Regions from separate parts of the Homo sapiens genome. Here region 2 is linked to region 1. A link means that fine-mapping ties the variant in region 1 to the expression of a gene that starts in the linked region. Tissue or cell type: skeletal muscle. Region 1 holds a variant in brackets; the other region holds the start of a gene. All regions are shown on one strand. Distances are between the middles of the regions.

Region 1 (5,294 bases):
TTAACATACAGGTGGTATTTAAAGTCATGAGTCTGAATGAGAATGTTAGGGGAGCAAGTGTAGACAGAGAAGGGGTCCAAGTACCTTGGGGACTTCAATGTCCAGAGGTTAGTGAGGTGAAGAGGAACAGCAGAGGGTACCTAGGGGAATTTATAGCCAGAGAAGAGGAAAACCAGGAAGCCAGCGAAGAACGTGTTTCCGGGAGGAGGGTGGGATCCCACACCAGAGGCTGTTGATGCCCTAACAGAAGGACTGGGAATTGACCATCCAATTTAGCAACATGGAAATCAGCGGCGACCTCAACGGAAGCAATTTGGGGCAGTAGTGGGGGCCACTCGGAGAGAAATGAAAATAGTGAGTAAAATAGCAAGTTTTTTATGTAGAGCAGCAGAGAAATGGGGCCGTTGGTGGTGAGGAACGAGAAGTTGTTTTTGTTTCCTTAAGAGGTGAATATAACCATGTTTATGTGCTGATGGAAATGATTTCATTGAGGGAAGGTTTGAAGACATAAAGGGGTGGTGTTTGCTGACTGGCATCCAAGCATAGGTGAGAGTGTATGGAATCCAGGGCACAAGTGGTTCTAGAAGGTTCTAGAAGGAGCACTGATAGAGAGAGGTAGGTGCAGGTAGGTGGGTGGATATAGGAGGTCGTAGAAGTTCTTTTCTAATTTATTCTGTTTTTTTTTTAAGGAAAGAGGAGATAGAGTGAGGGTGGGGATGGAAGTGTTGGCAGTGTGAGGACAGGGTATAAGCATCTGTCTGGGAAAGAGGCTTTGTGAGTGCTCTGAGGCAGTGCTGTAGGATTGCTGGGCTTGCTGAGCACGCCCTTGAGGTTGCGATCGTGAATTCACAGTGATGGTAGTCCAGACGGCTGTGTTTTCCTCCAGCCTGTGATGTGCAATACCACTTTACTGTGCCTAATCAGATGAGATTCAGGGATTGTCATTCTGCAGATACAGTTTTTCTAAAATGATGTTTCCATGATTATATGTTTAATCTGCAATAACTGTATAATGTTTACTTTTAAATTTGAGGAAACATACTTTTAGTTACAATATAGCTTCCCTTTCATTACACTGGGTTATATGAGCCTTCAGTATACTGCTTCTGTCCTCACTACTGGCTGAATTTGTCACTTTGGTGGGTCTGGTCTTTGCTGAGTCTCGCTTTTTTTGTGGGAGTAATCTCTTGTCTATTGGAACTTTTCTTCCTGACGTAGGTTTTTATACATAGTTAGTTTTATGCATAGATAGTTTTATACATAAAGTAAAATTTACATTTTCACTATATTTAAGTGTACAGTTCTGTGACATAGAAAGTACGTTCACACTGTTGTGCAGCCATCACCATCATCCATCTCCAATTTTCCTCTTCCTGAACTGGAACTCTGTACCTGTGAAACACTAATTCCCCATTTTCCTCTTTCCCCAGGCCCTGGCAATCACCATTCTACTTTCTGTCTCTATGAGTTTGACTCCTCTGGGTACCTCCTAGAAGTGGAATCATACAGCATTTGTCCTTTTGTGTCTGACTTATTTTTATTTCACTGAACACCATGTCTTCTGGGTCCATCCATGTTGTAGCATGTATCATGCTTTGATTCCTTTTAAAGGCCAAATAATATTCTGTTGTTTGGCTAGATTATAATTGGTTATCCATTCATCTGTTGATGAACAATTGGATTTTTTTCACCTTCTCTTTTGTGAATAATGCTGCTGTGAACATGGGTGTACAAATGTCTGAGTCCCTGCTTTCAATTCTCTTGGAAGTGGAATTTCTGCATCATATGGTAATTCTGTTTAATTTTTTGAGGAACTGCCATACACTTTTCCACAGTGGCTGTACCTTTTTACATTTTCACCAGTAGTGCACAAGGGTTCCAGTTTTTCCACATCCTCTCCAACACTCGTTAATGGGCTTTTAAAAATAATAGCCATCCTAATGGGTATAAAGTGCTACTTCATCATGATTTTGACTGTGATTGCTTTTTGACTAATTCTGGTACCACTTCTGTTGGGATTCAGTTTACTACTATACATTATATGAGGCATAGACTAGGAAACCAAACCATAATTTTTTTTTTTTTTTTTTGAGACGGAGTTTCGCTCTTGTTTCCCAGGCTGGAGTGCAATGGTGCGATCTTGGCTCACCGCAACCTTTGCCTCCCGGGTTCAAGTGATTGTCCTGCCTCAGCCTCCCGAGTAGCTGAGATTACAGGCATGCACCACCATGCCTGGCTAATTTTGTATTTTTATTAGAAACAGGGTTTCTGCATGTTGGTCAGGCTGGTCTCAAACTCCCAACCTTAGCTGATCCGCCTGCCTCGACCTCCCAAAGTGCTAGGATTACAGGCATGAGCCATTGTGCCCAGCCCCAAACCATAATTTTTATTCTGGCTTGAACTTTTGCCCACAGTTTGTATATTGTGACAGGGTGTTAAATTCAGAGATGTGGCAGTGACCAGGGAATGTGCCTTGAGGGTGAGATAGAGGCTGTTCTGTATTGCGGTAATTAAGAGGAGCCACTGGGGTAGGGATGATAATATTGGATACCTTGAAGGCAGCTACTTTTCTTCAAGTCTTTTTGTTCTCTCTTCTCCAAGGCCTAAGCTTTCCCTTGAAATCTCAAATTTATTTTAATTGAATGGGTTTGATTATATATGAGGAAAGTAAATCTATTTTATGCTATTAATGTAAGTTTGATATTTAAGGAGTTGACTATATATATAGGAGAAAGAAAAGGCAGAAAGAGTAGTATGGAATATGCAAGACAAGAGTATTCTGTTTTTCCCATATTCATTGGTTATAGTTTTTAATTTTTTAATAAAGGCTTTTACTTTCCAATCATTTGCTGGTGGCTTCTTGACCTGGCAAGTGACTCATGAGATACTCCAGAGGCTATATAATATAGCCCCTGGGTAACATGAAAATTTAAAATTAATTTTTAATGTATGTAATCTCTTAATGAACACTTCTCAGAGTGATAGATACAGCATTTTATGAAGTGTCTATTAAATCTTCTGCCAAGTTAGTCCTTTGTCAGATATGTGGTTTGCACATATTTTCTTTTTGTCTGCAGCTTATCTTTTCATTTTCTCAACAGTGTCTTTTGCAGAGCCAAAGTTTTTATTCTGATGAAATCCAGTTTATTTTTGTTTTGTTTTATGGATCGTGCAGTAGGTATTACGACTGAGAACTCTGCCTTAGCCCCAGGTCGTACAGGATTTTTCTCCTTCGTTTATTATTTTACTTTTAGACTTATGATATTTTTAGGGTTAATTTCTAAGGTGTAAGGTTTAGGTCAAGGTTAGTTTTTTT[TG/G]CCTTTGCTGGTGTAGTTGCACCAGCACCATTTGTTGGAGAGACTGAGTATCCTTTCTCTGTTGAATTGTTTTGTACTTTTGTCAAAAATTAATTGGCTGTGATGGAAACAATCCAAAGTAGATGGGTAGATGAATGGATAATATGTGGTTTATACATACTCAGCCATAAAAAGGAATGAAGTAGTAATACATGTTACAACGTGGATAAACCTTGAAAACATTATCTTAAGGGAAAGGTGATCACTAAAGACCACATATTATATGATCTCATTTAAATGAAATGTCCGGAATAGGCAAATCTCTAGAGACAGAAAATAGATTGGGGTTGCTTAGGGCAGGGAGAAAATAGGGGTTAAGGGCCCGATGATTTAAAGGGTATGAGGTTTCTCTTTGAGGTGATGAAATGTTCTAATATTGATTGTGGTGATAGTTGCACATATCTGTGACTGTACGAGAAACTATTGAATTAGATACCTTTAATGGGGGAATTGAATGCTCTGTGAATTCTATCCCAAAAAATTGTTGACAAATAATTAATTTGGCTGTATTTGTGTTGATGTAATTCTGGACTCTATTCTGTTCTTTTGATCTAAGTGTTTATTCCTTTGCCAATACCACAAGGTTTTGGTTACTGTAGTTTTATAATAAGTCTTAAAATAGGTAGTGTGGTTTTTGTCCAAAAATATTTTTAGCTATTCTAGTTCCTTTACCTTTCCATATAAATTATATCATCAACTTATATGTACCTACAAAAAAAAAGTCCTGCTGGGATCTTGACTGGAATTGCATTAAATGCATAGATCAGTTTGTGGAGAATTGCTTTCTTATGCTGAAACTTTTAATGCATGAATATGGTATTTCCTTACATTTATTTATTTAGAGACAGGATCTTACTTTGTCACCCAGGCTGGAGTACAGTGGTGCAATCTCAGCTCACTGCAGCCTCTACCTCCCATGTTCAAGCAATCCTGCTGCCTCAGCCCCCCAAGTAGCTGGGACTGCAGGTGCTCACCACCATGCCTGGTTAATCTTTGTATTTTTAGTAGAGATGGGGTTTTGCCGTGTTGTCCAGGCTGGTCTCAAACTCCTGACCTCAGGCGATCTGCCCACCTAAGCCTCCCAGAGTGCTGGGATTACAGGTATGAGCCACCACGCCTGGCCTGTCTCTGCATTTACTTAGGTTGTCTGTGATTTTTTTCATCAGTTTTACAGTTTTCAGCGTATAGATCTTACACAGGTTTTGTAAGATTTATAACTATTTCTTTTGAGGGGAAGCTGTTGTAAATGATAGTTTTAAAATTTCAATTTTTAACTGTGTGTTACTAGTATATAGAAATATGATTGATTTTGGTATGCTGACCTTGTATCCTGTAACCTTGCTGAAGGACGTAATTCTAGGAGTTGGTTTGTTTGAAGGTTCCTTGGGATTTTCTTTGTAGATAATCATGTCATCTGTGAATAGGGGCAGTAGAATTGTCTGTAGTATTCCCTTACCCTTTTAATGCCTGTCGGGTCTGTAGTGTAAGCTCTGTCTTTTTATTCCTAATAGTGATAATTTGTGTGTGTGTGTGTGCGTGCTTACTCATGTGCACTCTCTCTCTGTCTCTGTCTCTGGCTTGCTAGTGGTTTATCATTTTATTGACCTTTTCAAAGAACCAGCTTTTGGTTTCATTGATTTTTTTTTTATAGATTTTTTTTTTTGGTCAATTTCATTGATTTCTGTTGTTTGGTTCTTTCTGCTTGGGTTTGGTTTATTTTGCCTTTTTTTCCTTTTAGTGTTAAGGCAGAAACATAGATTGTTGATTTTAGACGTTTCTTGTTTTCTGAAATGACAGTGCTATTAATTTTCCTCCAAGTGTTGCTTTAACTATATCCCACAAATTTTGGCATGTTGCATTTTCATCTCAAAATATTTTCTAACTTTCCTTGAAGCTTTCTCTTTGACCCATGAATTATTTAGAACATCTTTGGAGACT
Region 2 (5,294 bases), 37 kb before region 1:
CTAGGCTGGAGATACAGACTTTTTCATCATTAGCATGTAAATGGTAATCAGATCTATAGTGTTAATGAAGTTATTCAGAGAAAATTTACAGAGTGAGGAGAAGAGAGACCTGAAGATAAAACCCTGGAAATATCACTATGGACAGGTCAGGAGGAAAAATAAGATGCTGAAAGAAAGGGAGAAGAAACAGCTGAGGAAGCAGAGAAAAGAAAGAACAGGACAAAGTCATCGATGAAAACCAGAGTGAGATAGTGTTTCAAGAAATAGGAAATACTCCACAGAGTCCATTCAGGTAAGAACGAAAAAGGGCAGCTCTGGCAATTAGGAATCGCTGCCCACATTGGTGAATCAGAAAAGTGGTGTTGCGGGAAATATTCCGGGAGAGAAGACAGTGCAAACATGTTGTGGGTAAGAAGGAGAGTTCCACATGCCTGACCTGGGGCAGAGAAGGGGGAGTCAGGCTGTGAGGCCAGCTGGCTTTTCCCCAATCCCAATAAGCCTTCAATGCTGTGCTCTGCAGTTAGGCTTTACTCTGAAGGCAACAGAGAATAAAACACATAGGCCAACTTGTTTTTTTGTTTTGTTTTGTTTTGTTTTGTTTTTTGGTATAAGTCATTTTTCAAGATTGAGGTAAACTTTCTTTTTTTTTTTTTTGAGACCAAGTCTCACTCTGTCTCCAGGCTGGAGTGCAGTGGTGTGATCTTGGCTCACTGCAACCTCTGCCTCCTGGGTTCAAGCAATTCTCCTGCCTCAGCCTCCCGAGTAGCTGGGATTACAGGCGTGCACCACCATGCCCAGCTAATTTTTTTGTATTTCAGTAGAGATGGGGTTTCACCATGTTGGCCAGGATGGTCTCAATCTCCTGACCTCATGATCCACCGGCCTCGGCCTCCCAAAGTGCTGGGATTACAGGTGTGAGCCACTGCGCCCGGCTGATTGAGGTAAACTTTCTGCAGAGCGAAATGCATAGATCTTAAGGGTTCAGTTCAAGGAGTCTTGACAAATGTGTAACAACACCCTGATCAACATAAAATATTTTCATCACCCCAGAAAGTTCCCTTGTGCCCAATTCTAGTCAAATCTCTACTCCCTATATGCAACTACTGTTCTCATTTCTATCCTTCAGATTACTTTTGTCTCTTCTTGGATTTCATATAAATGAAATCACGAGGATGTAAACGTTGTGACTGGCTTCCTTTGTTTAACATATTGTTTCTGAGACTTATCCATGTAAAGCGGATTAGCAATTCATTGTCTTATTGCTGGGAGCATTATTATATAGATAGATCACAATTTTTTATTCATTCTTCAATTTGATGCACATGTAGGTTGTTACCTAACACCTACTAGGTTGTTATAAGCTTTTGGCTATAACGAATAATGTTGTCAAAAACATTCTTCTGCAAGCTTTTTTTTTTGAAACATGTTTTCATTTATTTTAGGTAATTACCTGGGGGTGAAATCGCTGAATCATAAAGCAGCTATATTATAACTTTACGAGAAACAGTTTCTAAAGTGACTGTACCGTTTTCATGCCCACCAGTAATGTATGAGAATTCCAGTTGCTCCACACCCTTGGTCTTTGCCGTTTAGTGTTTTCGAGCTTTTACATGTTAGCCATTCTCATCAGTATGAAGTGGTACCTCATTGTGGGTTTAATTTGCATTTCTCTGATGACTAATGATGTTGAACACTTTTCCAAGTGCTTATCATTTGTGTATCTTCGTTTGTTAAGTGCTCAAGACATTTACCCATTTATATTTGTTAGATATATGTTGACAGAAACAATAGTTTTCTGCACATTTTATGTTGAAGGTAATTGATATTTACTGACATGTTAAAAGGGCTTAAAATAGAAACATTTATGCATTTTGTCAATGAAAAACGGAATGACTGAAATATGAAAAAAGTCTTGCCTGTGTAATGTCAGATAACCTTAAAGTCAGATAACTTTATATAAAAATAACTGTAAATTTAAATAACTAATTTTTGTCTTATCCATTATGTTATTATATGTCAAGCTCTTTGAAGTTGGGACCCTGTTTTCTCTATTGACTAAGAGGCAGATCTTTGTGTTTAGTAGCGAAGAAAACCCTATGTCACTGATCTAGTTTGTCTCAAATTGAGCCAGGAACCAAATCCACACCATGCATGCCGAGGTGAGGTTTTCTGTTTCTCTATTTAGCAATGGATGCTGTCAGAAATACAGAAAAGACAGACACAGGGACTATTTTTGAGTTTGCACATGGGAGCACATGCATTGTGCAGGAGGCTCTGCATCCTGGAGTCATCTTGGGCACTTGGCTGTGAGGGCTGGCGTGGGCATCTTGGTTTTAGCTGAATCCTAGCACATTGCTATAGGTACCTCTAAGGCAGGAGAATAGGGCCTGGAGGCAGGGAATCCAAAAACTCCCTAGAACCAAATCAGATAGAAACACTTCAGCTATGACAGGAAATATCCTCTTCATTTACATAGGGAGTACACCAAGTAAATAACTTTGTAACTTCATTTTATCCTCTTCAGTTACATAGTGTGTACACCAAGTAACCAATTGAAACCTCTATAGGTATTTAAACCCCAGAAAATTCTGTAACCAGCCCCCCTTGAGCGGCTTGCTTGGGTCTGCCCCCACCCTGTGGAGTGTACTTTTGCAATAAATCTCTGCTTTTGTGGCTTCATTCTGTCTTTGCTTTGTTTGTGCGCTTTGTCCAATTCTTGGACCTGGACACCCTCCACCGGTAACACTTCTCACTCCTGGCCTTACGTCTAAATCATTCTTGTGTTTTCATGACTTATTTTTAATGCAGATGTCCAGAACCAATTTCAGACCTACTGTGTCAGTCTCTTTGTGGATGGTGCCCATCATGCAACGTTTGGAAAATAATCTAAAGTGATTCTGCTGTGCACCTTCTGTGAACTGGTTTATGCTCACAGGCACGCCTGATTTAGGGTCCTGGGCAGACCAACCTCCAATCAGGAATCGATGAAGCTGGTGTAGATACTACATTAACTTTTAACGAAGGCCTCGTTTCTCCTAAAAATAAGAGACCAGGTGGGTTCTATCTAGGCAGGGTTGGTGGCAGGAACCCAAGGGAAGCTGAGCTGCACCAAGCCGGGCTGGGATCCCCCTCTCTGCGGCCGCGCGCCCGGCTCCGTCGGCGCACGCGCACGTAGGGGCCGGCCGGTCCTGTGCGCACGCATCGCACACGCCGGCGCCTTCCTTTGGGAGCCCGGGCCGGTGGCGCGGGCGCTCGGCAAATGGAGTGGGTGCTCGCGGAAGCGCTGCTCTCGCAGAGCCGGGACCCCCGGGCCCTGCTTGGGGCGCTGTGCCAAGGGGAGGCATCCGCGGAGCGCGTGGAGACGCTGCGCTTCCTTCTGCAGCGGCTCGAGGACGAGGAGGCGCGCGGCAGCGGGGGCGCAGGCGCGCTCCCGGAGGCGGCGCGCGAGGTGGCTGCAGGGTACCTCGTGCCACTGCTGCGGAGCCTGCGCGGACGCCCCGCGGGCGGCCCGGACCCCAGTCTGCAGCCTCGCCACCGCCGGCGCGTGCTGAGGGCGGCGGGCGCGGCCCTGCGCTCGTGCGTCCGCCTGGCCGGGCGTCCGCAGCTGGCGGCCGCGCTGGCTGAGGAGGCGCTGCGCGATCTGCTCGCCGGGTGGCGCGCGCCTGGCGCCGAGGCTGCCGTGGAAGTGCTAGCAGCCGTCGGGCCATGTTTGCGGCCCCGCGAGGACGGGCCGCTACTGGAGCGCGTGGCGGGGACCGCCGTCGCCCTGGCGCTGGGCGGGGGCGGGGACGGGGATGAGGCCGGGCCTGCCGAGGACGCGGCGGCGCTGGTGGCCGGGCGACTGCTGCCAGTGCTGGTCCAATGTGGCGGGGCGGCGCTGCGGGCCGTGTGGGGCGGGCTGGCCGCGCCTGGGGCGTCCCTGGGGTCCGGCCGCGTAGAGGAGAAGCTGCTGGTCCTGAGCGCCCTGGCCGAGAAGCTGTTGCCCGAGCCCGGCGGCGACCGCGCCCGCGGCGCGCGCGAGGCGGGCCCGGACGCCCGGCGCTGCTGGCGCTTCTGGAGGACGGTGCAGGCGGGGCTGGGCCAGGCGGACGCCCTGACGCGCAAGCGAGCGCGCTACCTGCTGCAGAGGGCGGTGGAGGTGTCGGCGGAGCTGGGGGCCGACTGCACCTGCGGGCCCCAGGAAGGAAACGGTACCTGCCTCTTTGCCCCCCAGCCTAGTGCTACCTACTTGGCTGCCCCAGAGGGGAGTCTTCCTGCTTCTAAAAACTAGCTTATCGGGGTCGTCACTCCGATCCATGCAGAATTTGGTTATTCCGCGTTGCTCCCCTAAAGCCTGAAAACCTTTGGAACCCCTTCTCGAGGGTGTTCTTTGAAGTCACAAATCACTGCGGTTGGGAACGTTCTAACCCAGAGCCGGTGGAATACAGCACCCCTGGAATAGTTTAGGAAGATAATGGAGCCCGTGCAAGATTTTACAGACCCAAATCTGCACTATATCATGGTAGATTCAACCCAATAGAAACGGTTGATATCTATCAAGTTGAAAGAAAAATTATTTGTTATTTATCTGTACTGACCAGTGAATTAGTGAATTGAGTGTTGAGTGTTAGAATTAAGCGTCATAGAGGCCATCACACTCTTCTGAAATTTCCCCTGGTAATTAGGAACAGGATTTACTAATATTTGTTAAACATGTTTCTTAAGTCGACCTTTTGAGTGTATTTTTGCCATTGATTTAATAGAATGAATCAGATTTTATTTTTTAACTGTTTGAGCTTTGCTCCCTACTATGTGCAAGAGTAATGAAACAGCAAGGCCTCCCTTCAAGTTGTTACGTTACTGTTGATTGGTTTGACTTCACTCATGTTAAATTTGGGTTTAAACTGTCAAGTACAAAGTAGATTGACTCAAAATTGTCTCAATAGAATATTTCTACTTTTTCAACGGTAGCTGACCATTTATTACAGGTAAAGGATTTTTGTTTGGCTGAAGTTATGAGGTTATATTTTCAAGTAATTTTAAAACATTAGAGAGTAAATATTTGAACAGTCCACAGATAGGTGTGATCATCCCTGAGAGTTTTCACTGGAAAACATTTTTTAAATCATCAAAAATTAAAACATTCATTTATTTACATGAGTCTGTTATTTTGCAGTTTTGTTTGTTTGTTTGTTTGTTTTATGGAGTTTCGGTCTTGTTGCCCAGGCTGGAATGCAATGGCACAATCTCCGCTCACCGCAACCTGCACTTCCCGGGTTCAAGCGGTTCTCCTGCCTCAGCCTCCAGAGTAGCTG

The links. PIP is the estimated chance that this variant, and not a neighbour inherited with it, causes the effect.
Region 2: TARBP1 starts here. The variant in region 1 is fine-mapped to the expression of TARBP1 in skeletal muscle (GTEx, PIP above 0.99).

Annotation. Positions count from the first base shown.
Region 1 is chr1:234,440,087-234,445,380 of GRCh38, reverse strand. All of the region lies in intron 12 of TARBP1 (tRNA guanosine 2 -O-methyltransferase TARBP1), which reads left to right. Among named protein-coding and RNA genes, the nearest start is that of TARBP1, 36 kb to the left of the region's middle. The variant TG/G (reference allele first, on the strand shown) is at 3,317.
Region 2 is chr1:234,477,069-234,482,362 of GRCh38, reverse strand. It overlaps TARBP1 (tRNA guanosine 2 -O-methyltransferase TARBP1), which reads left to right and starts at 3,184. Exons shown (of 30, transcript NM_005646.4): 1 at 3,184-4,190. The coding sequence starts at 3,260. RefSeq lists silencers at 3,068-3,257, 3,288-4,087.